Linked DNA regions of Homo sapiens: regions 1 and 2 are each linked to region 3. The links come from fine-mapping of genetic effects on gene expression. A gene starts in region 3. Each other region holds a variant in brackets. All regions are shown on one strand. Distances are between the middles of the regions. Region 1 holds the start of GPHA2 (glycoprotein hormone subunit alpha 2). Region 2 has its middle 5.7 kb from the start of SCYL1. Region 3 holds the start of CDC42BPG (CDC42 binding protein kinase gamma).

Evidence for each region. PIP is the estimated chance that this variant, and not a neighbour inherited with it, causes the effect.
Region 1: its variant is the best candidate, but not a certain one, in a credible set for the expression of CDC42BPG in whole blood (INTERVAL, PIP 0.79).
Region 2: its variant is the best candidate, but not a certain one, in a credible set for the expression of CDC42BPG in whole blood (TOPMed, PIP 0.65).

The regions. Positions count from the first base shown.
Region 1 is chr11:64,930,929-64,938,306 of GRCh38, forward strand. PPP2R5B (protein phosphatase 2 regulatory subunit B'beta) reads left to right here. Exons shown (of 14, transcript NM_006244.4): 9 at 508-561; 10 at 631-681; 11 at 821-940; 12 at 1,837-1,964; 13 at 2,217-2,318; 14 at 2,769-3,547. The coding sequence ends at 2,916. It overlaps GPHA2 (glycoprotein hormone subunit alpha 2), which reads right to left and starts at 4,965. Exons shown (of 4, transcript NM_130769.4): 1 at 4,906-4,965; 2 at 4,430-4,532; 3 at 4,063-4,247; 4 at 3,543-3,946. The coding sequence starts at 4,532. The coding sequence ends at 3,845. It overlaps MAJIN (membrane anchored junction protein), which reads right to left. Exons shown (of 11, transcript NM_001037225.3): 11 at 7,302-7,378. The variant C/T (reference allele first, on the strand shown) is at 2,895.
Region 2 is chr11:65,515,684-65,523,152 of GRCh38, forward strand. No RefSeq gene overlaps it. Among named protein-coding and RNA genes, the nearest start is that of SCYL1, 5.7 kb to the right of the region's middle. The variant T/C (reference allele first, on the strand shown) is at 3,874.
Region 3 is chr11:64,841,337-64,848,805 of GRCh38, forward strand. It overlaps CDC42BPG (CDC42 binding protein kinase gamma), which reads right to left and starts at 3,317. Exons shown (of 37, transcript NM_017525.3): 1 at 3,074-3,317; 2 at 477-568; 3 at 314-397. The coding sequence starts at 3,233. RefSeq lists enhancers at 355-1,167, 1,661-1,955, 1,980-2,792, 6,203-6,272 and silencers at 3,007-3,056, 3,087-3,136, 3,147-3,496, 5,813-5,902.

The sequences.
Region 1 (7,378 bases), 90 kb after region 3:
AGTGGTATGAACATGGCTCACTGAAGCCTCTACCTGCTGGGCTCAAGCAGTCCTCCCTTCTCAGCCTCCCGAGTAGCTGGGACCACAGATGTATGTGCCACATGCCTGGCTAATTAAAAAAAATTTTTTTTTTGTAGAGACAGTGTCTTGCTATGTTACCTAGGCTGGTCTCAAACTCCCAGGCTCAAGTGATTCTGCTGCCTCGGCCTCCCAAAGTGCTTGGATTACAGGCGTGAGCCACCACACTAGCCATATTATGGAACCTTTTGCAAAATTTATAAAGATGAGTTTGTTGACTGTCCCCACTCCCCGCGAGATCAGAGTTGTATTCCCAGCACACTGAATGTGATGCCTGGTACATCCTAGGCAGGTGATAAATGCTTGGTGAATAAGAAAGTAACAGGCCGTGGGTGAGCAGTATTTGGCATTCTGTCCTGGACAGCAAGTCCTTGGCGCCTGGTGCCTTCCTGACCTGTCTTCCTTCCCTCCACCTGTCACCCCCTGCAGCTGGCATACTGTGTGGTGCAGTTCCTGGAGAAGGATGCCACTCTGACAGAGCACGTGAGTACCTCTGGGGGCTAAGGCAGCCTCTCACCTCTGCAGGCGTGACTCCTGTCTCATCTCCCACAGGTGATCCGGGGGCTGCTCAAATACTGGCCAAAAACCTGCACCCAGAAGGAGGTATGAAGAAGGGCTTTGATGCCCGCCAGAGGGAGGCTGGGAGGGCTCGGCCTCTAGAAGGCAGTCAGGTGTGTGTATGTGTAGGGGGAGATGTGAGCTGCTGCCCCTCTGTCCCTACTCCCCTCCCCAACCCACCCAGGTGATGTTTCTGGGGGAGATGGAAGAGATTCTTGATGTCATCGAGCCCTCCCAGTTTGTGAAGATCCAGGAGCCCCTTTTTAAGCAGGTGGCTCGCTGTGTTTCCAGCCCCCATTTCCAGGTATGAGGCAGGACAGGCGGGGATGGGAGCAGGGCTGGCCTGGAAAGGTTGGGTAGCTGACCTAATAAAGCTCCCTTTGCCCTCAGTTTCTCCTCCAATCCCGGGTCTGGTAATGGGGAGATGCTGGACTTAGGGTCAGGAGACCTAGGGTGAAGCCTCGGACCTGCCTTCCACTGGCTGAGGGGCCTTGAGCAAATCACTGCACCACTCTGATTCTGATTAAGCTTCCGCAGCTGTAAAATGGGCCAACAACCTCTTCACAGGGTGGGGATAAGGATGGAAGAGATTGTGAGTGTAAACATGTTTGGTAAACTGAAGTGTGATCCAGAATGTGATGGAGGACTGTTATCACTTTTCCCCTTTTGCTAGTGGCCTTAGATTTCATTAGACTCGCTTTGGGATGCAGCCAGGCTTCCCCGCACCAACCCAGCTAACTAACTCATGTTCTGCTGCAAGCATGTGCAGACTTCCTCCCGTTCTTATGGGCCATAACCCAGTGGAAGTCAAGTCTTCCTCACAGTGATTCTGGCACTTCGGTTCATTAAACACCTAAAAGTCTAGTATCTCATTTGATTCTTATAACATCCTGTTGAGATAGGTATTATTAGCCCATTTTACAGATGAGAAAACTGAGGCTGGGAGGTTAAATGCCTCTCCCAAGGTCACATGGCATAGTAGAGTCTGTAGTGGTTAGGATTCACCCCGCAGCATTGGATTCCGTATCTAGAACTCTTTTCCCTTCAACACTGTTGCTTCCTCCAGGGCTCAGATAAGCCCTGAAGGTGGGGTGTGTGAAGGTCAGGGGGCCTGGGCGTTGAGGTAGTGATGGACACCAGACCTTGCACACAGAGAGAAGCCACTGCCAGTTAATCACTCTGCCATCTTGTCTGCCCCAGGTTGCAGAGCGGGCTCTGTATTTCTGGAACAATGAGTATATCCTAAGCCTCATTGAGGACAACTGCCACACTGTGCTGCCTGCTGTGTTTGGGACCCTCTACCAAGTCTCCAAGGAGCACTGGAACCAGTGAGTGCCAGGCCATGACCTAACTCACAGAAACTGGGACCAGGGCCAGCCAGTCCAGACCCGACCCCAGGGTTACTCCTAGCTGGAGAATATCAGAGAAAGCATCAAAAGATGGCCCAGGGGTGGTGAAAAGGACAGGAAAGTGGGCAGTGCTTGTGTTCAGGTGGAATGCTGTATGTGAAGGGCAGGGAAAGGGAGAGGTGGGCAAACCAAAGCTGTTTCATCTCCTCATCCCTCCTTGACACTGCCAAGAACCATCGTATCACTGATCTACAATGTGCTCAAGACCTTCATGGAGATGAATGGGAAGCTGTTTGATGAGCTCACAGCCTCCTACAAGCTGGAAAAGCAGCAGTGAGTGTTGGGGGCTGGGCGTGGGGGAAGGGAGAAGAGCAGGGAGGAGTCAGACCCCCATGGCTGGAGGGAACCCGAGGACTACCCCAAACTCTGTCTGATCAGATGCTGCAAGACTGTCCATGCTCCTGCCATCCTATGCCTGACTGTCTGCCCCTGTATCCTCCCGTCATTCTTCGAGTAGCTCAGACTTGTTCTGACTCCCTGTAGCTTCCTACAGAAGCCAGAACCACTCAGGCCCCACCCGTCATCTTCTCTGTGACTGCAGGCTGGGATCTGTCTGTCCTCTGCTCTCTTCCCTCAGTAGAGGGTTTTTATGGAGTCACAGAACAAAAATGGTTCCATGCCTTCCCTTTGCCGGTGGGGTGGTAGTGAGGGAGTCTGGACTGTGAGGGAGTCTGGACTGTGGGGGGCCCCAGGAAAGGGAGCTGCCTCACCCTCTCTCCCCAGGGAGCAGCAGAAGGCCCAGGAGCGTCAGGAGTTATGGCAAGGTCTGGAGGAGCTGCGGCTACGCCGGCTACAGGGGACCCAGGGGGCCAAGGAGGCCCCCCTCCAGCGGCTTACACCCCAGGTGGC[C/T]GCCAGTGGGGGTCAGAGCTAGACAGCACCTCAGAAGGGGAAAAGCTAAACCCAGAGCTGTCAGTCCCTCTATCCCTTCTCCTGTCCAGGGGCCCAGAGAGAAACACACCTACCCCTGGCCTTGCCAGAGTGGCTTCTGAGGACTCCCTGCCCAGCCCAGCTTTCACTGGGGGGAGACGAGGAGAGGCAATGGTGGTCTTGGCAACAGAATGCTCAGCCCCTCGTGGCAGGACTTGACAAGGGCAAGCTTGACCAGGAAGCTGCCATCAGGGATCTTCCCCTGCCCCGCAAAGCTAGGCTCCAGCTGCAGGCGGGCTCCCACCCTCTGCTCCTGGCCTTGGGCAAGGGCACTCAGCGCCTCGCCTGCCCCTGCCTTGGCCAATGCGAGGTCCTTCCTTATCCCCACCATGGGGTCCATGGTCTATTTATTCTCGCCCAGCTCACCCTCTACACAGACACTGTCCTGGGTGCACACTCCTCCCTTCCCTCGCTGTGTACTTCCTTGTCCCCTTTTTATTTATTGGGCAGGGGGAGGGGGAGGGCACAGGCAAGAAGAGATTCACAGTGTCCTGGGGTAAGGGGGGGTTCACAGTAATCATGGTCTACTCCTCTTTCCGTGGCTGGGGGTAGACTTAATAAAGAGAGAAATTCAAGAACTGCTTGCTTTATTTAGGGGTAAGGGCAAAGAGGGAAGTAAAATGATGAAAGATTGGTTTAGAAGGGCCAGGCAGAGGCAGGGAAGAAGCAGAAACTCCCCTCTTCTCAGGTGACAGTCACAAAATCTTACAAAGGATCAAAGCTGGAACAACCCTCCCCTTATTTAAAAAAATTCCATAGCAAGTAACCATCAGGGCTGGAGCTCCTTCCAGTTTTTGAATCTTGAACACAGGTTTCCCCCACCAGAACGTCAAGCCCTGTGACCCAGGGGAGGAAGGAGGGGAGAGGATGGGCTAGTAGCGAGAGAGGCGACACATGTCACACTGGCAGGCCCTGGCCGTGAAGATCTCGAGCTCCTCCCTCCGGCTCCCCACACACTGCAGCTGTACTTTGACCTGCGGGAGAGGGGAGTCCGTGCTGCAGTCCCCTTTCTCAGGGCTGTCTAGGATCTCCATCTCTCTGGTCTTCCCGCGACCCCAGCGTCCATCCACCGGGCCCGGGCCCTCCTCACCTTCTTCAGGCCACTGATGGTGCAGCACTGAGAGACGGAGGTGATGTTGTGTCGGTAACCACTGGCCACCAGCACAGAGTACCGAGAAGGGAAGGCGCTGGACTCACAGTGGCCCACACAGGCCTGTGCCACGTGGGAGCCCTGGCAGGTGCCTTGGCGGTCACTTCGCACTGTCACATTGAAGGCTAGAAGGAGATAGGCAAGCAGTAGACGGCGCCTCTGCCAAGGTTTGCCTCGCCCCAGCTCCCGTTGCCTGTGCCTCAGTGTGGGGCCCTTTAGGGTGCTGCCTGCCCCACCGTCCACTCAGCTCTTTGCTCCCACCCAGAACCTCCACTGCTCCTAGCCCTCCGGTCCCAGAGGTACTCACGGTGCAAGTGGCAGCCTGGGATGACTGCCTCCTGGCCCCAGGCTTCAGTGACTGCCAGGACCAGCAGATAGAGGACCAGGGTTTGAGGGGACGCCATAGGCATCTGAAACACAGTGGGGAGATGTCTCTACGTGGGTGTGCAGGTGGGATGGCGAGTTCTTTAAATACTGCATTCCAGGTGAGTGAGCCAGGGCTGGCTGGTCTGACAGGTGAGGTGTGCCTGAATGGTGCTGCCTTTTCCCTGTATCTGCCTTTGTGTGTGTGTGTGTGTGTGTATGGGTGTGAGTGTGAGCAGCTGTCTCTGGAAAGGACCTGTGTGTCAGCCCTCTGTGCAGTGATTCTCCCTTCCCTGGAATTTTCTTCGCCATCTGGAGCGCAAACATCTTCCTCCCTCCATCTGCCCCATCTTGGCCTGCAGGGCCCTCGTCCACATTCCCAGACCCTCCCCAGAGCTCCTCCTGCCTCAGCGAGCTCACCACTTCCGAGGCCCAGGAACAGAGCGGCTTGCAGTTTTCCTGTGCCTCCTGCTGGTCTCCAGCTTGGTGCTGGCTCTCCAGGCTTTTATTTGCCAGCATTTTGGAGCCACGCCCTCTTGGAGATCGGCTTTCAAACCAGCCTCCCCTGCCTGAAGCCTCAGAGCGATCCCACCTGGGGGATCTTGCTCTTTGAGGTGCGGTCCTCGGAGAGCAGCTCCTGCTGCTTTCTGCTTCTTTCTGTCCAAAAAGCTACCCACAGCCCAGGCCTCGATAAGTCAGATGTGGAGAGAAGCCTAGGAGCTGGTGGAGTGTGCAGCGTGTGTGCAGCTGACGACACAGGGGTCAAGACTCTTGGCTGAGTTGTGGACACCTGGGTTCTCTTTGCTCTGTGACCTTGGACAGAACATTTCCCTGTTCAGGGCCTGATCACCCCTAACTTTATTATTATTTATTACTATTATTTTGAGAGGGTCTGGCTCTGTCACCTAGGCTGGAGTGTGGTGGTGTTATCTCGGCTCACTGCAACCTCCACCTCCCAGCCTCCCAGACTCAAGCCATCCTCCCCCTTAGCCTCCTGAGTAGCTGGGACCACAGGCACACCACTATGACCAGCTAACTTTTGTATTTTTTTGTAGAGACAGGATTTTGCCATGTTGCCCATGGTGGTCTTGAACTGCTAAGCTCAAGTGATCCGCCTGCTTAGGCCTCCCAAAGTGCTAGAATTACAGGCATGAGACACTGTGCCTGGCCACACCCCTAATTTTAAAACCACTAAACTCAGTCCTGCTTGCCTTTTTCTAACTGCAAAGGAAAGGGATTGGGGAAGGAGATTCTTAGGGACAAGGGAAATTATACCAGTGGAGGTCTCCTGAGATGTGCTTGGTGGCAGGGCCGGGGGTTTGGGGGTTGCTGTCTGTTTCAGAGTTGCATGGCCACGGTATCAGTGGATGATTCGCATCCTGTGCTACAGAGTAACGTTCTGAGCTGGAGTGCTCCCCTAGCCCTGGAATAACAGGGACCTGACTCCTGAAAGGGCCTGAAGTTATCAACCCCAGCAAAGCTGATCTATTTGTCCAACTCTGGTTTTATAGATGAGGCAACTAAGGCTCAAAGAAAGAAAGTTACTAAAAGTCACCCAGCTAGTTAATGTTAGGGCTGATTTCAAATTCAAATCTGCTGTCCATCCATGGTGCTAAACTACACTTGAGCAAGAATGTGGCAAGCTGGAGAAAGACCCCCAGGCAGCAGTGGCCAGAGGGGTTGGGGCAAGGTGGAGAGCCAAAGGAAGCCTGTGGTGATTCTGGGCAGCCCCGCTTTGGGGTCATTGCCTCACTGATCTGCTCAGAAAGAGCAGGGCCAGTCACAGACTGCTAGAGCTAGAAGGCACTTTATAACTCACCAAATCCTACCCCCTCATTTTCTGGATGAGAAAATAAGAGCTCAGCGGAAAACAACTTCCCAAAGCTTCACTGTAAGCTAGTCAGAGTCAGGGCGGGCACTCACAGCTCCAGATTTGGAGCTGTGCTTCTTAGCAGCTTTGTAAAACAGGCCATGTTTGGGACAGTCGAGTAAAGGCTGTAAACGCAATTTGAGAGGAAGTGATGTTACTAATGTCACTAATCCTTAAATTCCCACACCCTACGGTTTCCCCATCAGCCCCCATCCCCTCAAGACCTGGGTCCTTGTTTGCCAGGTCCTCCGCAGCAGTCCACCTCTTCTCTTCTCCCCACCAAGGGTGCAGGCAGCATAGCAACAGGACGCAGCGGGAACTCAGCAGTTCAGCCCCTGCTCTCCCACTCTTGAGGGGCACCCTCTGGCATGTGACAGATGATGGCTTCTGTTTAAAGCATTTGGGTGACAAGGCTCATTACCTTATGAGGTAGCCCATTCTAATATTGGACATCTCTAACAGGTAAAAAGTGACTCCTTTGTTGTGAGCTAAAATGAGTTTCCCTACATTTCCATAGATCATTTTGGTTCTCCACGGCCACATGAGGCTAAAGTGTCTATTACAGATCAGTCCTTTAGTTGAAGGCAGCTCAGGTGGCCAGGCCTTCTCCAGGGGTGCCAACCTGGATTGACTTCCAGTTAATCTGATAAACGAATCTGCATTACTGTCAAACAGTTAAAGGGATAGAGAGGTGGGAAACATTTTGTCTATGGAGAGGCAACCATTTGGGGCCAAACTGGAACTGGGGAAGAGGTCTCTTGGGTGAGCAGGGCTCAGGACAGTGAGTCTTGAAAGACCCCATTCCCTAACCTCTGGCACAAACTCACCTACCCAAAGTGATCCTGTGAATAGTAACCAGGTAGACCTAGGGAAGTTTCATGCATTTTCTCTGTATCTTGAGGGAAGCATTTGTTCTCTTTTACTCTATTCCACTAAATTCAATCAATAACTCTTCATAAATAATTTATTGTCATTAGGATCCTAAGTGCCGAAGACAAAAGGCCTAAACCGGCCCTCAGGACA
Region 2 (7,469 bases), 670 kb after region 3:
TGAAGTGCACTGGAAAAGCACAGAAGCAATGCTTTTTAACAAATTAATTAAATTAATTTATTTTTATTTCTTTATTTTGAGACAAGGTCTCACCCTGTTGCTCAGGCTGGAGTGCAGTGGTTGAATCATGGCTTACTGCAGCCTCAACCTCCTGGGCTCAAGCAATCCTTCTTCCTCGGCCTCCAAAGTAGCTGGGACTACAGGTGCACACCTCCATGCCTGGCTAATTTTTTGATATTTTGTTGAGATGAGGGTCCTACTCTATGGCCGAGGCTGGTCTTGAACTCCTGAGCTCAAGCGATCCTCCCACCTCAGCCTTCCAAAGTGCCAGGATTACAGGTGTGAGCCATCTTGCCAGGCTAGAAGCAATGCTTTCTGCCTGAATAATTCAGGGAAGGCTAGACAGAGCAGGGGACATTTGGAGTGAGATTCAAAGAATACGAATTTGCTGGATAGAAAAGACCAGGGCAGCCTTCCTCCAGAGAGAACAGCTTGAAAGTGAGAAATGTGGGGCACTGCAACCCAGAGTGGCTGGAAGGGAGGCTGAGAGAGGAGTTGGAGAAGGGGAGAGAGGAGAGGAGAGAGGAGGGGAGGGGAGGGGAGGGGAGGAGGAGCGACAGAGAGAGAGAGAGAGGCAGAGAGAGGAGAGAGAGAAAGGAGACAGAGAAACAGAGAGAGGAAAGACAGAGAGGAGAGAGAGTAGAGAGAGACAGAGAGGAGAGAGACATAGGAGAGAGATAAAAGAGAGAGAGAGGAGAAAGAGAGACAGAGAGGAGAGAGACCAAGGAGAGAGACAGGAGAGAGACAGAGAGAGAGCAGAGAGAAAGGAGAGAGAGAGATGGAGAGAGAGAGGAGTGAGAGTAGAGAGACAGAGGAGAGAGACAGAGAGAGAGGAGAGAGAGACAGAAAGGAGAGAGAGAGAGGAGACAGAAAGGAGAGAGAGAGACAGAGAGAGGAGAGAGACAGAAAGGAAAGAGAGAGAGACAGAGAGAGAGAGAGAGGAGAGAGAGAGAGAGAGAAGCTGGGGTAGGTTGGAGGGTAGTTAGGCCCTAGGACAGCAGATGAGTTAGGGGCTTGCCCCTGGGGAACAGATGGTGAGACTGATGATTCTGGCTGCAAGGTGGGGGATGATCACACTCAGTTCTAGCCACGTGCAGTTTGAGGAGGCTGGGCTGCGCGGGGGTCTGGGCCACGATGGGGGTGTAACTGATTTCTGAGTGGGAAATTCTGAGAGTCTTTGTTTGAAATATCTTTATTTTGCTCTCAGTTTTCATGACAGCTTAGCTGGGAATGGCATTTAGGTAGTGGTTGCCACTTGAAGATGTCTTTATGTTTAAAAAGTTATTGTTTTGTTTTGTTTTGTTTGAGGCAGAGTCTGGCTCTGTTGCCCAGGCTGGAGTGCAGTGGCGCGATCTTGGCTCACCACAACATCAGCCTCCCAGGTTCAAGCGATTCTCCTGCCTCAGCCTCCTGAGTAGCTGGGATTACAGGCACCTTGCCACCACGCACAGCTCATTTTTGTATTATTAGTAGAGACGAGGTTTCGCCGTGTTGGCCAGGCTGGTCTCAAACTCCTGACCTCATGTGATCTGCCTGCCTCAGCCTCCCAAAGTGCTGGGATTACAGGTGTGAGCCACCTCACCCGGCCAGTTTTGTTTTGTTTTGAGACAGGATCTGGAATGGCTTGCTCTGTTGCCCAGGCTGGAATGCAGTACCGTAATCATAGCTCACTGCAGCCTGAACTACTGGACTCGAGCAATACACCTGCCTCGGCCTCCCAAGGAAATGGGACTTTAGGCATGCACCACCACAACTAGCTGATTTTTAATTTTTTTTTTTTTTTTTTTTTTTTAGAGATAGGATCTCACTGTATTGCCCAGGCTGGTCCTGAACTCCTGGGCTCAAGCCATTCTCCTGCCTTGGCCCTCCAAAGTGCCAGGGTTATAGGCATAAGCCGCTGCACCTGGCCTGAACTTCTTTTCTTAGATTTATTCCTAGTAATTTATTCTTTCTTTATGTTATTAAAAATGGAGCCAGACGTGGTGGCTCACCTAAGTAAAACTTCACAGATGACATAATCTTGTATACAGAAAATCCTATGGAGTCTTTGAAAGCTATTAAAATTAATGAGTTCAGCAAGGTTGTAGGATGCAAGATCAACATACAAAAATCACTATAGCAGCGAACAATCTGAAAACATTCTTTTTTTTTTTTTTTTTTTTTTTACCTGACGACTCACTCTGTAGCCCATACTGGAGTGCAATGGCACGATCTCGACTCACTGCAACCTCGCCTCCCAGGTTCAAGTGATTGTCCTGCCTCAGCTTCCCGAGTAGCTGGGATTACAGGCACATGCCACCATGCCTGGCTAATTTTTTTTTTTTTTATTAAGTAGAGGTGGGGTTTCTCCATGTTGGTTGCTCTTGAACTCCTGACCTCATGTGTTCTGCCCACTTTGGCTTCCCAAAGTGCTGGGATTACAGGTGTGAGCCACTGTGCCTGGCCAGGTTCAGGTGACCTTCACGCCCCAGTTCAGACTACAGGAATGTGCCACCATGCCTGGCTGGTTTCTTTTTTCTTTTTACCGTGAAAGACTGGTGGATTGGCCCGGGCCCGGTGGCTCATACCTGTAATCCCAGCACTTTGGGAGGCCAAGGCCAGCAGATTACCTGAGGTCAGGAGTTCAAGACCAGCCTGGCCAACATGGCGAATCCCCGTCTATACTAAAAATACAAAAATTAGCTGGGTATGGTGGTGAATGCCTGTAATCCCAGCTACTCGGGAGGCTGAGGCAGGAGAATCGCTTGAACCCGGGAGGTGAAGGTTGCAGTGAGCTGAGATCGCGCTACTGCACTCCAGCCTGGGTGACAAGGTGAGACTCTGTCTGAAAAAAAAAGGAAAGACTGGTGGATTTTGTTAATTGCTTTTTCTGCTTCTATTGAGATGATCAGGTATTTTTTTGTTTTGCTTTTTATTCTATTAATAGTATGTATTACATTAATTAATTTTCAGATGTTAAACCAACCTTGTATTCCTAGGATAAATCCTATTTAATCATGATATAGAATTTTCCTTTTCTTTTTTTTTTTTTAAGACAGAGTTTTGCTCTTGTTGCCCAGGCTGGAGTACAATGGAGCGATCTCAGCTCACCGCAACCTCCGCCTCCCAGGTTCAAGCAATTCTCCTGCCTCAGCCTTCCCGAGTAGCTGGGATTACAGGCATGTGCCACCATGCCCGGCTAATTTTGTATTTTTAATAGAGACGGGGTTTCTCCATGTTGGTCAGGCTGGTCTTGAACTCCCAACCTCAGGTGATCTGCCTGCCTTGGCCTCCCAAAGTGCTAAGATTACAGGCATGAGCCACCGCGCCCAGCCTTTTTTTTTTTTTTTTTTTTTTTTAAACACAGGTTCCTGCTCTGTTGCCTAGACTAGAGTGCAGTGCCGCAATCATGGCTCATGTCTCACGGCTCACTGCAACCTCAACCTCTTGGGTGGGCTCAAGCAATCCTCCTGCCTTAGCCTCCTGAGTAGCTGGGACTACAAGCATGTGCCACCATGCTGGGCTAATTTTTTTCGTAGAGACTGAGTCTTGCTATGTTGTCTAGGCTGACCTCAAACTCCTGGCCTCAAGCAAGCTAACCACCTCAGCCTCCCAAGTGCTGGGACTATAGGTGTGAGCCACTGCACCGGCTAGAATTCTCCTGACTCAGCCTCCTGAGTAGCTGGGATTACAGGCAAGCCTGGCTAATTTTTTTTTTTTTTTTTTTTTTTTTTTTGTATTTTTAGTAGAGACAGGGTTTCACCGTGTTAGCCAGGATGGTCTGGATCTCCAGACCTTGTGATCCACCTGCCTTGGCCTCCCAAAGTGATGGGA[T/C]TACAGGTGTTAGCCACTGCGCCTGGCCTGCTCTGTAGTTTCTTGTGATGTCTTTATCTGGTTTTGTTATCAGGGTACTATTGATACCAGCCTAATAGAATGAGTTGGGAAGTATTCCCTCTTCCTCTTCCATTTTTTGGAAGTGTTTGTGAAGAATTGGTATTAATTCTTTAAATGTTTGGTAGAAGTTAGTAGTGAAGAAGTTACTAGTCATCTGGGCCTAGACTTTTCTTTGTAAGTAGGTTTTTAATTTTTTTTTGAGACAGAGTCTCACTCTGTCGCCCAGGCTGGAGTGCAGTGGCATGATATCGGCTCATTGCAACCTCCACCTACAGGGTTCAAGCTATTCTCTTGCCTCAGCCTCCCAAGCAGCTGGGACTATAGGTGTGTGCCACCATGCCTGGCTAATTTTGTATTTTTAGTAGAGAAGGGGTTTCATCATGATGGCCAGGCTGATCTCAAACTTTTGACCTCATGTGATCCGCCCGCCTTGGCCTCCCAAAGTGCTGGGATTACAGGTGTGAGCCACTGCACCTGGCCCATATTCACAGGTTCTGAGAGTTAGGACATGGACATCTTTGAGGGGCTAGTATTCTGCCGACCACAATAGGCCAGAACCCTGAACAGTTTACTTTTTAGGCATCATATTTGCTAAAAACAAAACAAACAAAAAAACCAAACCAAACAAAGAAGTAAAAATCAAAACAAACAAAAAACACAGAGCCATTTTTTGGAAAGACAATAATAGGAAGTCAAAATAATGTTAATTTTGGAGTTATTATTGTTTATTTTATTTTATTTTATTTTTGAGATGGAGTCTCCCTCTGTCCCAGGCTGGAGTGCAGTGGCGTGATCTCGGCTCACTGCAACCTCCGCCTCCCGGGTTCAAGCGATTCTCCTGCCTCAGCCTCCAGAGTAGCTGGAATTACAGGCGCATGCCACCACGCCCGGCTAATTTTTGTATTTTTAGTAGAGACGGGCTTTCAGTACGTTGGCCAGGCTGGTCTCGAACTCCTGACCTCGTGATCCACCCACCTCGGCCTTCCAAAGTGGTGGGATTACAGGCGTGAGCCACCAAGCCCGGCAGCTTGAAGTTATTCTTACATGCTTTGGCAGATGTTAAAACGTTTGTTTTTTTTAAAATTCTCAACATTTAGATCTAGGACAGAGCACAATTTAAATACTTTCTAAAATTAAATTTGGCTGTTACATAAGATTCAGCATTGTTTACAGCAGCTTTTCTGTTTCATGCGTTATAATATAAGATAAAGTAGAAAGAACACCAAAGGTTTTCCTATGATAAGTCATCAACAAAATAAGTGTGGGCCATTAGCAAGTAGCTCTTGATATCTTACAGTGGGCTGAACAACAAATACTTTCTCTTGAAGAATTTGGATCCCTGTTAGCTAAGCTTAAAGTTCCCACTATTTTATTTTATTATTTTATTTATTTATTTATTTTTGAGACGAAGTCTCACTCTTGTCCCCCAGGCTGGAGTGCAATGGCGCAATCTTGGCTCACTGCAACCTCCGCCTCCCAGGTTCAAGCAATTCTCCCTCAGCCTCCTGAGTAGCTGGGATTACAGGCATGTGCCACCACGCCAGGCTAATTTTTTTTTTTTTTTTTTTGAGACAGAGTCTCGCTCTGTTGCCCAGGCTGGAGTGCAGTGGTGCGATCTTGGCTCACTGCAAGCTCCGCCTCCCAGGTTCACGCCATTCTTCTGCCTCAGCCTCTGGAGTAGCTGGGACTACAGTCGCCTGCCACCACGCCCGGCTAATTTTTTTTGTATTTTTAGTAGAGACGGGGTTTCATTGTGTTAGCCAGGATGGTCTCGATCTCCTGACCTCGTGATCCGCCCGCCTCGGCCTCCCAAAGTGCTGGGATTACAGGCGTGAGCCACTGCGCCTGGCCTCGCCTGGCTAATTTTTGTATTTTTAGTAGAGACGGGGTTTCACCATGTTGGCCAGGCTGGTCTTGAACTCCTGACCTCAGGTGAGCCATCCGCCTCGGCCTCCCAAAGTGCTGGGATTACAGGCGTGAGCTACCGTGCCCATCCAAGTTCCCACTTTTTTTTTGAGATGGAGTCTCGCTCTGTCGTCCAGGCTGGAGTGCAGTGGTGCGATCTCGGCTCACTGCAACCTCCACCTCCCAGATTCAAGCGATTCTCCTGCCTCAGCCTTCCCAGTAGCTGGGATTACAGGTGCCCACCACCACACCTGGCTAATTTTTGTGTTTTTAGTAGAGACGGGGTTTCAACATATGTGTAGGGTCCAGCCCTACGGGGCTTAGCATGTGTTCTCCCCCTGTGTGGAGACTAGAGATTGTAATAAATAAAGACACAAGACAAAGAGATAAAGAGAAAACAGCTGGGCCCCAGGGACCACTACCATCAAGACGCGGAGACCGGTAGTGGCCCCAAATGGCTGGGCTCGCTGATATTTATTGTATACAAGACAAGGGGGCAGGGTAAGGAGGGTGAATCTTCTAAGTGATTGACAAGGTGAAGCAGGTCAGGTGATTACAGGATAGGGGGCCCTTCCCTTTTAGGTAGCCGAAGCAGAGAGAGAAGGCAGCATACGTCAGCGTTTTCTTCTCTGCTCTTATAAGAAAGATCAAAGACTTTAAGACTTTCACTATTTCTTCTACCTCTATCTACTACGAATTTCAAAGACGAACCAGGAGTATGGGAGGAGCATGAAAGTGGACAAAGAGCGTGAGCATTGAAGCACAGCACCACAGGGAGGGGTTTAGGCTTCTGGATGACTGCGGGCAGGCCTGGATAATATCCAGCCTTCCACAAGAAGCTGGTGGAGCAGAGTGTCCCCTGACTCCTCCAAGGAAAGGAGACTCCCTTTCGCGGTCTGCTAAGTAACGGGTGCCTTCCCAGACACTGGCGTTACCGCTTGACCAAAGAGCCCTCAAGAGGCCCTTATGCGGGCGTGACAGAAGGCTCACCTCTTGCCTTCTAGGTCACTTCTCACAATGTCCCTTCAGCACCTGACCCTATACCCGCCGGTTATTCCTAGGTTATATTAGTAATGCAACAAAGAGTAATATTAAAAGCTAATGATTAATAATGCTTATAACAATGATTGATAATTGTTCATGACCATCTCTATATCTAATTTGTATTATGACTATTCTTATTCTAACTATTTTCTTTTTTATACTGAAACAGTTTGTGCCTTCAATCTCTTGCCTCCGCACCTAGGTATTCCTCCGCCCACACATATGTGGGGGAAAGGAAGCGAGATCAGACTGTTACTGTGTCTATGCAGAAAAAAAGAAGACATAAGAAACTCCGTTTTGATCTGTACTAAGAAAAATTCTTCTGCTTTGAGATGCTGTTAATCTGTAACTTTAGTTCCAACCCTGTGCTCACAGAAACATGCGCTGTATTGAATCAAGGTTTAAGGGATTTAGGGCTGTGCAGGATGTGCCTTGTTAACTATATGTTTGCAAGCAGTATGCTTGGTAAAAGTCATCGCCATTCTCCATTCTCTATTAACCAGGGACATGATGCACTGTGCAAAGCCACAGGGACCTCTGCCCGAGAAAGCCTGGGTATTGTCTCCCCGACTGAGACAGCCTGATAT
Region 3 (7,469 bases):
CAGCTACTCGGGAGGCTGAGGCAGGAGAATTACTTGAACTGGGAGGCGGAGGTTGCAGTGAGCCAAGATAGCACCGTTGAACTCCAGCCTAGTTGACAGAGCAAGATTCCGTCTCAAAAAAAAAAAAAAAATTTAAAAAATTAAATAAAGGGTTTATTGTGAGAAAGATAACAAATCAGTGGCTGCTGAGGGTGGCACCCTTTGCCTGGTCTGCAGCCTTGCCCGCCCCCCCCGCGCCATAGGCCCTGGCAGCATACACCTCCCCCACACCCATTTGTAGGGTGCCCAAGGGCCCCCCAGACTCCACACTGACCTCAGCCCTCTTCAGCATCTCCCACTTGTGCAGCATTTTCATGGCAAAAATCTGCCCAGTGTCCCTCTGCCTCACCACGGTGACCTAAGGCCACAGGGAGGACCGGGGTGAGCCCAGCCCGGTGTGAACACCTCCCCCCACCTACCCCAGGCCCTTTGCTCACCTCCCCAAAGGCTCCTCGGCCGATCACCTTCAAGATCTCAAAGTCATCTCTCTGCAGACGCAGTTCTTTCACCTTTGATACGAAGGGGCTGGCTGAGGGGACACAGGGCGGGACTCAGAGTGCAGGGAGGGAGGGCTCCATTCCCCCTCTCACCTTGGGCAAGCCAGGAGCTGCCGCTCCTGTGAGCCCAGGCAGGGATGACCTCCCCAGGGACAGCCTCGGGCCAAGGGGTTGTGGCAGGAACTGGTGCTCCTTTGGCCATGATCAGGAAGTGCGGAAGGTCAGAGGCCGGGCTCAGCTGACCGCCTGGTCCCTGGACCTCCCTGGACCCCTGGCCCCAGACTCTAGGCAGCCTCCATCCCAGGGGCTGATGGGACTTGTAGTCCTGCCCAGTCTGCGGCCTGACTCTGCTTGGCCAGGTCACCCTGGGGACCATGGGGACACCATTCCTACCCCCACCTCACAGTTCTTGGCCCCCTCACAGGTTCAGGCCAGGGCCTGTCTTAGGAAACTGGACGGGTGACATTCCTTATCCCCAGAGAGGCTTCTCTCCCATTCAGGAGCTGTGGGCCTGGGTCCCGGGACCCTGTAGGCATAGAGGTGCCTGGTTGGGGGTGAGGCCTGCAGCCCCTAGGGCAGGGAGGACAGGCTCTATGCTTCCCACGTGGGGCCCCTCAGGCTGGAGGCATGGATGCCAGTCTGCCAAGGTGCTGAGACTCACAAACAGGACAAAGATGCCTTTCCCTGGTGCTAGCACTAGCCCCTGAAGGCGTGAGTGCTCAGGATGCCTCCAGGCCTGACCGGCTCTCTCACTCCCAGCCCTGCCTCCCTGTCTGGACGAAGCTTTTGTCTGGTCAAGAACGTCCTCTTTCCTCACATCCCAGATACCTCCAGGAAGGGCAACTCCAGCCACTCCCAGGCACTTTCCAGGCCTGGATTAGCCCCAGGTTTTGGGAAGGAATTGGGTCTTAGGGAGGCAGGAGTGATCAGTCAGGATGGGGGGCAGCTGTGGTCTGGCGCCCTGCCTCAGTTTCCCCCTGCCAGGAGGTAAACTCCCTGCCAGCTGGGCGGGTCTGTGGGTGGGACAGAGAGCTGTTCCACAGGTTTATCAGGCAGAAGCCCGCAGCGGGGGCGGGGTGGAAACCTCATTACAGAAATTCATTGTCTCTTTCCCAGGTCTGTGTGTGGAGCTGGGGAGGAGCAGCCCCGGGCCTCCCCGTGGGAGTTGAAGCCAGCACCATAGGGACCCACCCGCCAGAAGAGGGCCGAAGCCCAGGCCCACAGGCAGGAGGATCCAGGCCCCTGGACAGGCTGCCTAATCCTCTGGCCTCCCACAGGGCATGGGGGCTCCGGGCAGGAGCAGGGACAAGTAGAGACAAGCAGGAGAGGAATGAGTCACAGCCCTTTGAGTTACCTTGGGAGATTGTCAACAGAGGGCCCCCATGCCGGGGTCCCAGGCAGAGGTGCTGGAGGCAGTCAGGGAGGAGCACACATGTGTGTGCAAACACACACACGTGTGTGGGTGTCATGGGGGGGGTGACAACAACACAGGCAGACAGGCATAGCACGGAGGCATACCAGGGAGACAGGCACAGAGGCAGGGGCCTCTGACTGCCTCGCCCTGGATGGAAGGGTTGGGGCTAGGGGACAACTCCCTGGCACATCTAGGTGGCAGCCTCCCCCTCTACCCCAGGCCTTGTGCCTTCCCAGAGCTCAGGAGTGCCAGGAACGCTAGTTGCCCACTGGGCAAACACCTGCCTCACCCCGCCCTGGCCAGGCCCCCGTGCCTTTTCCCCATGGCCCGGCAGGGTGTGACCAGGGAACCCTCCAGCTGGCGCCAGTGCCCACAGTGGGTTCAGGGTCACCCCGGGCCAGCCACTCCCAATGACTCAGATGAGTCTACCAGGAAAGGTACAGACCCATCTCCAGCTAGGCCCCCCTCCCCGGCCCCGGCGCCACAGCCCCCAAGGAGCTTGGCCAGCAGCCTGCACAGGCCAAGGGTTGGAGATCGGTTCCTGAGTCCAGGCTGCAGTGGTCTTGTACCCAGGGAGCTGGGGGTGTGTGTGTTGGTGGGGGGAAGGTCTGCAAGTGTGCGATACCTACAGATCTGTGTGTTTTGCAGTGCCAATGCGGTCGGGGTGGTCTGCAGCGCTCCCTGGGTCTCTCCATGAGTTGTGTGTCTCAATGCATCCGAGAGGAAGGAGAAACAGAGCCCGTGTATCAGTGGGTGACATGCATGAGGGTCTGTGTGTGTCCTGCGTCAGGTGTGGCCTGTAAGCAAGGAAATCTGTAAGGGACTCTAGGCGGTGCACTGGGTACATGCGTCTGCGGTCGATACCTGAGCACAAGTTGGTATGTGTGTGCATGTGTCGGGGTCTGTGAGAGGGAGAGAGCGTGTGTGAGAATTGGAGTGAGGGTGAGGTGTGCAGGCGAGTGTGCGGGCCGCGGGGGTCCGGTGGTACGCGTCAGGGCCACTGCAGGGAGTCTGCGAGGGAAGCCCGTGGGGGTGCGGGTCCCTGCGGGAAAGTCTGCGGGTGCGGGGGTCTCGGCGCGATATCCCTAGGCCCGCCCCCGCTCCGTGCCGCCCCGCCACTCACCCCAGCTCAGGAACTGCGCCACGCTGCGCTCCCGCCGTAGGGGGCCGCTGCTGAGCTCGTGGTGCAGCGCCAGCAGCAGATCTAGGAGGCCGTCGAGCCCCGGGCAGCCGCCGGCCTCGCCCCGCGCCAGCTGCTCCAGCGCGCGCAGCCGCCGCTCCATGGCTGCGGCCGGAGCCTCGCTGCTCGGCTACAGTCTGGCCGCCCGCATGCCCGCCTGTCGGGCCGTCCGTCCGCCCAACCGTCTGAGGCTCTGTCCGCGCGTCCTCCCCCGCCCCTCTCCCGCCCTCCCCGCTGTCACCTTCCTCCGCCGCCGCCAGCGCGCCCTCACCTGGGCGCCGCGCCCCGCCCCCCGACGGACGGGCAGGTGCGCGCCGGCCAATGGGAGCCGCGGCTAGAGGTGAAGGTGGGGGCGGAGGCGCGCGGGGGCGGGCCCAACTCCCGGCCAGGAAGTGCGGGGGCGGGCCGGGGAGAACAACTGACTTCTGCGCGGGGCGCGGTGGGGTTCTGCGGGGTCGGAAAGACTCCCCAGATCCCCGCGCGGCCCCAGACCCAGACTTACCTGGGCCCTCCCTGGGCCCTGACCCAGGAGGCGCGGAGCACTGCAACTTCTCTCGCCCCCTGGGTCGCAGCCGCCTTGCCCTTGGCTAAGAGAGAGGGGCTAGGGACGCCCGCGGCCCCGGAGCCGGATGGGAATTGTAGTTCGCTCTCTCCATGGTTTGCCCGCGCTTGGCACCCATCGCCCCCCCGCCCCCGCCCAAAAAAAAGTTTCTGAATCTTACTTTGATTGTATCATTAGAGTTGATGTGGGAGACAGGAAGTTGGGGTAGGGATGGTCACGCCCATTTGGCAGATGGACACACTGAGGCTTGGGAAGGAGGAAGGCGAATTGAGGGGCTGAGGACAAGGTGGCTCTTAAGTTAGACCCTGGGGTGGAGGTGGAGCTGGGCTGGTACCAACACCACAGGCGTTTTAAGCTTCAGTAGGAGCAGGGCCTGAGGTCTGACCTGGAACGTGAAGGGCAAGGAGAGGTCTGAGATAGGCTGGAGGAGGTTGGGGAGGGGAGGGGCTGGCTCTGTCCAGTGGTATTTCTGATTTCTGTCCAGCTGGGATGGACCAGGCACCATGAGGAGAGATCAAAGGGTGGGACATATTGGTGGCTTCAGACAACACTTTTTTTTTTTTTTTTTTGAGACAGGGTCTCTCTGTCACCCATGCTGGAGTGCAGTGATGCAATCATAACTCACTGCAGCCTTGACCTCTTAGGCTCCTGCCTCAGCCTCTTGAGTAGCTGGGATTACAGGCAGATGCCACCACACCCAGCTGATTTTTTATTTTACTTTTTGGAGTCAAGGGTTATTGTTATGTTGACCAGGCTGGTCTCGAACTCCTGGGCTCAGGTAATCCTCCCACCTTGGCCTCCCGGAGTTCTGGGATTACAGACATGGGCAACTACACCCGGCCTAGACAACACTTCTTTCTCTTTTTTGAGACAGGGTCTCACTCTGTCCCCTAGGCTGGAGTGCAGTGGTGCAATCGTAGCTCACCACAGCCTCAACCTCCTGGGTTCAAGTGATCCTCCCACCTCAGCCTCCCGAATAGCTGAGACTACAGGCTCACACCACTAGGCCAGGCTGATGTTTTGTTTTTTGAGATGGTGTCTCACGCTGTCACCCAGGCCAGAGTGCAGTGGCACGATCTCGGCTCACTGCAACCTCTGCCTCCCAGGTTCAAGAGAGTCTCCTGCCTCAGCCTCCCAAGTAGCTGGGATTATAGGCATGTGCCACCACACCCAGCTAATTTTTGTATTTTTAGTAGAGATAGGGTTTTGCCATGTTGGCCAGGCTGATCTCAAACTCCTGACTTCAGGTGATCCTTCTGCCTCGGCCTCCCAAAGTGCTGGGATTACATGCGTGAGTCACTGGGCCCAGCCATGTTTGTATTTTTTATAGAGATGGGGTTTCGCCATGTTGCCTAGGCTGATCTCAAACTCCTGGACTCAAGTGATCTGCCTGCCTCAGCCTCCCAAAGCGCTGGGATTACAGGCTGTAGCCACTGGCCAACACATTATTTCATTAAAAGACCTGTTTAGGGGTTTGCCTCTCCTCTCGTACTGGGACCTCGCTGAGATGGGGGCAGGATCAGGTTGAGGGAGGAGGTGTTCCATGAATGTTTGAAGCAAACAGGGTGTTTCTCCCCACGAAGGGTTTTTCATGTGATTATTTGTTTATTTATTTATTTATTTTAAAGAGACAGGGTTGCACTATATTGCCACGTTGGCCAAGCTGGTCTGACCTCAGGTGATCCGCCCACCTCGGCCTCCCAAAGTGCTGGGATTACAGGCATGAGCCACCATACCCAGCCTTTTTTTGAGACAGGGTCTTGCTCTGTCACCCAGGCTGGAGTGCAGTGATGCAATCTCAGCTCACTGCAGCCTCAACATACTGGGCTCAAGTGATCCTCCCACCTCAGCCTCCTGAGTAGCTGGGACCGCAAGCCTGCACCACCACGCCTGGTTAATTTTTAATTTTTTTTTTAGAGCTGGGGTCTCTCTACATTGCCCGGGGCTGGTCTCAGACTCGCCCTGCCTCCCATGTGATCTCCCCAGAGGCCCGCCCTGTAGCTACGCAGGGCCCATGGGCTGAGAAATGTTTGGGGAAACAGAGTCTGGGTGTATTACCTAAATCAACCAGAATGGGATGGGGAGCCAGGATTCAAACCAAACTCTGGGGATCCCCTTCATTGCCTCTGGTCTCCTGGAAGGGGGAGGGGGCAGGAGTTCAGATCCCTCTCACCTGAGAGATTCTGAGCCCTCCTTATAGGGGCGGGGCAGGGGTGGAGCCCACAGGAGGTAGGAAGGGGCTTGCTCACTGAGGCCACACGGGGGCGCCAGAGACCAGAGGAGGGACAGGCGCTCCAGCCAGCATTAGGGAACCGGAGATAGGGAAGGGCTCCTGGGTGGGAAGATGGGCCTCTCCTCCGCTGCCCCTCGTGGACACCCCTGGTGAGGCCTCTGGGCCCTGCCTCACTCCCTGTGTGACCTCAGGCAAGTCCCTTAACCTCTCTGGTAAGTTCTCAGAAAGGTTCATCCCCAGCCATCTGTCCATCCCCACACAGTATAGCTGAGTGGACACTGAGTCCCAGGGCTGAGGCCAGGGCTGCACGGGGCAGGGCTGGGACTGGCATTCGGCACCTCCCGCCTCTCACACGTGATTCTTTCTGGTCCTTTATTAGTTTTTGTCACATCTGTCTTGTAAGCCTCAATTTCCTTGTCTGTAAAAGGGGGTTGGGTCCGGGCATGGTGGCTCATGCCTGTAAGCCCAGCATTTTGGGAGGCCGAGGTGGGAGGATCACTTGAGCCCAGAAGTTCAAGATCAGCCTGGGTGACATAGTGAGACCTCATCTCTACAAACGAACTTAAAAATTAGCTGAGTGTGGTGGTGAGAGCCTGTAGTTCCAGCTACTCGGGAGGCCAAGGTGGGCGGATCACTTGAGCCCAGGAATTCAAGACCAGCCTGGTCAACATGGCAAAACCCTGTCTCTACTAAAAATACAAAAATTAGCCTGGAATGGTGACACACACCTGCAGTCCCAGCTACTCGGGAGGCTGAGAAAGGAGAATCACTTGAACCTGGGAGGCAGAGCTTGCAGTGAGCTGAGATTGTGCCACTGCACTCCAGCCTAGGTGACAGAATGAGACCATGTCTCCAAAATAAATAAATAAATAAAAATAAAGGGGGAGGGTTGGGCCCCCTGCTCATTCCTTTGCAGCTCCAATGGAAGGAAGTCTGTAAAGGCTCAGTCTCTTTCTGAGCTTATTCCAGCCTTAGCAAGCAGCCAGGCCTCCAGCCCTGACTGCCCGAAGCAGCTCCAGGGCATGGCACCATGTTGGCTCAGCAGATCTGTTTTCTGATCCTGTGGGGCCAGACCACTAGGGCCACAGCAGCCTTGACACGCTCCCCACAGAGCCCTGAGCATGGCACAGCCCAAGGCCCAGCTCACAGGGATGGGTGAGTCTTGACAGGAGACACCCCCGAGAGCCTCAGTCACACCCTGTCCAGGCAGTCAGGCCACCCTCTTTCCTTTCCTTCTCACCAGGGTACCTTCATTCAAATGCCTCCTCCATGGTCGACTACTCCCCAGGTGCAGGAGGGCTCAGCTACCCCCCGCAGCCTCTCACTCATCCCGCAAGCCCCTTGGTACTGAGGGACATCACTAGCTCTCTCACCCAGCTCTGTGGGGAGCACTCATGCTGATAACAGCTTGCAAGTGTAAGGGGCCTCTTGGTAACTTAAAGTGACTTTAGATCTATTATCTTCACAAGGGCCACACTAGGAGAGAGTTATTACCCTCCTTTATAGACTAATGCATGGAAGCTGGGGAGGGAGGTGGTGCCAGC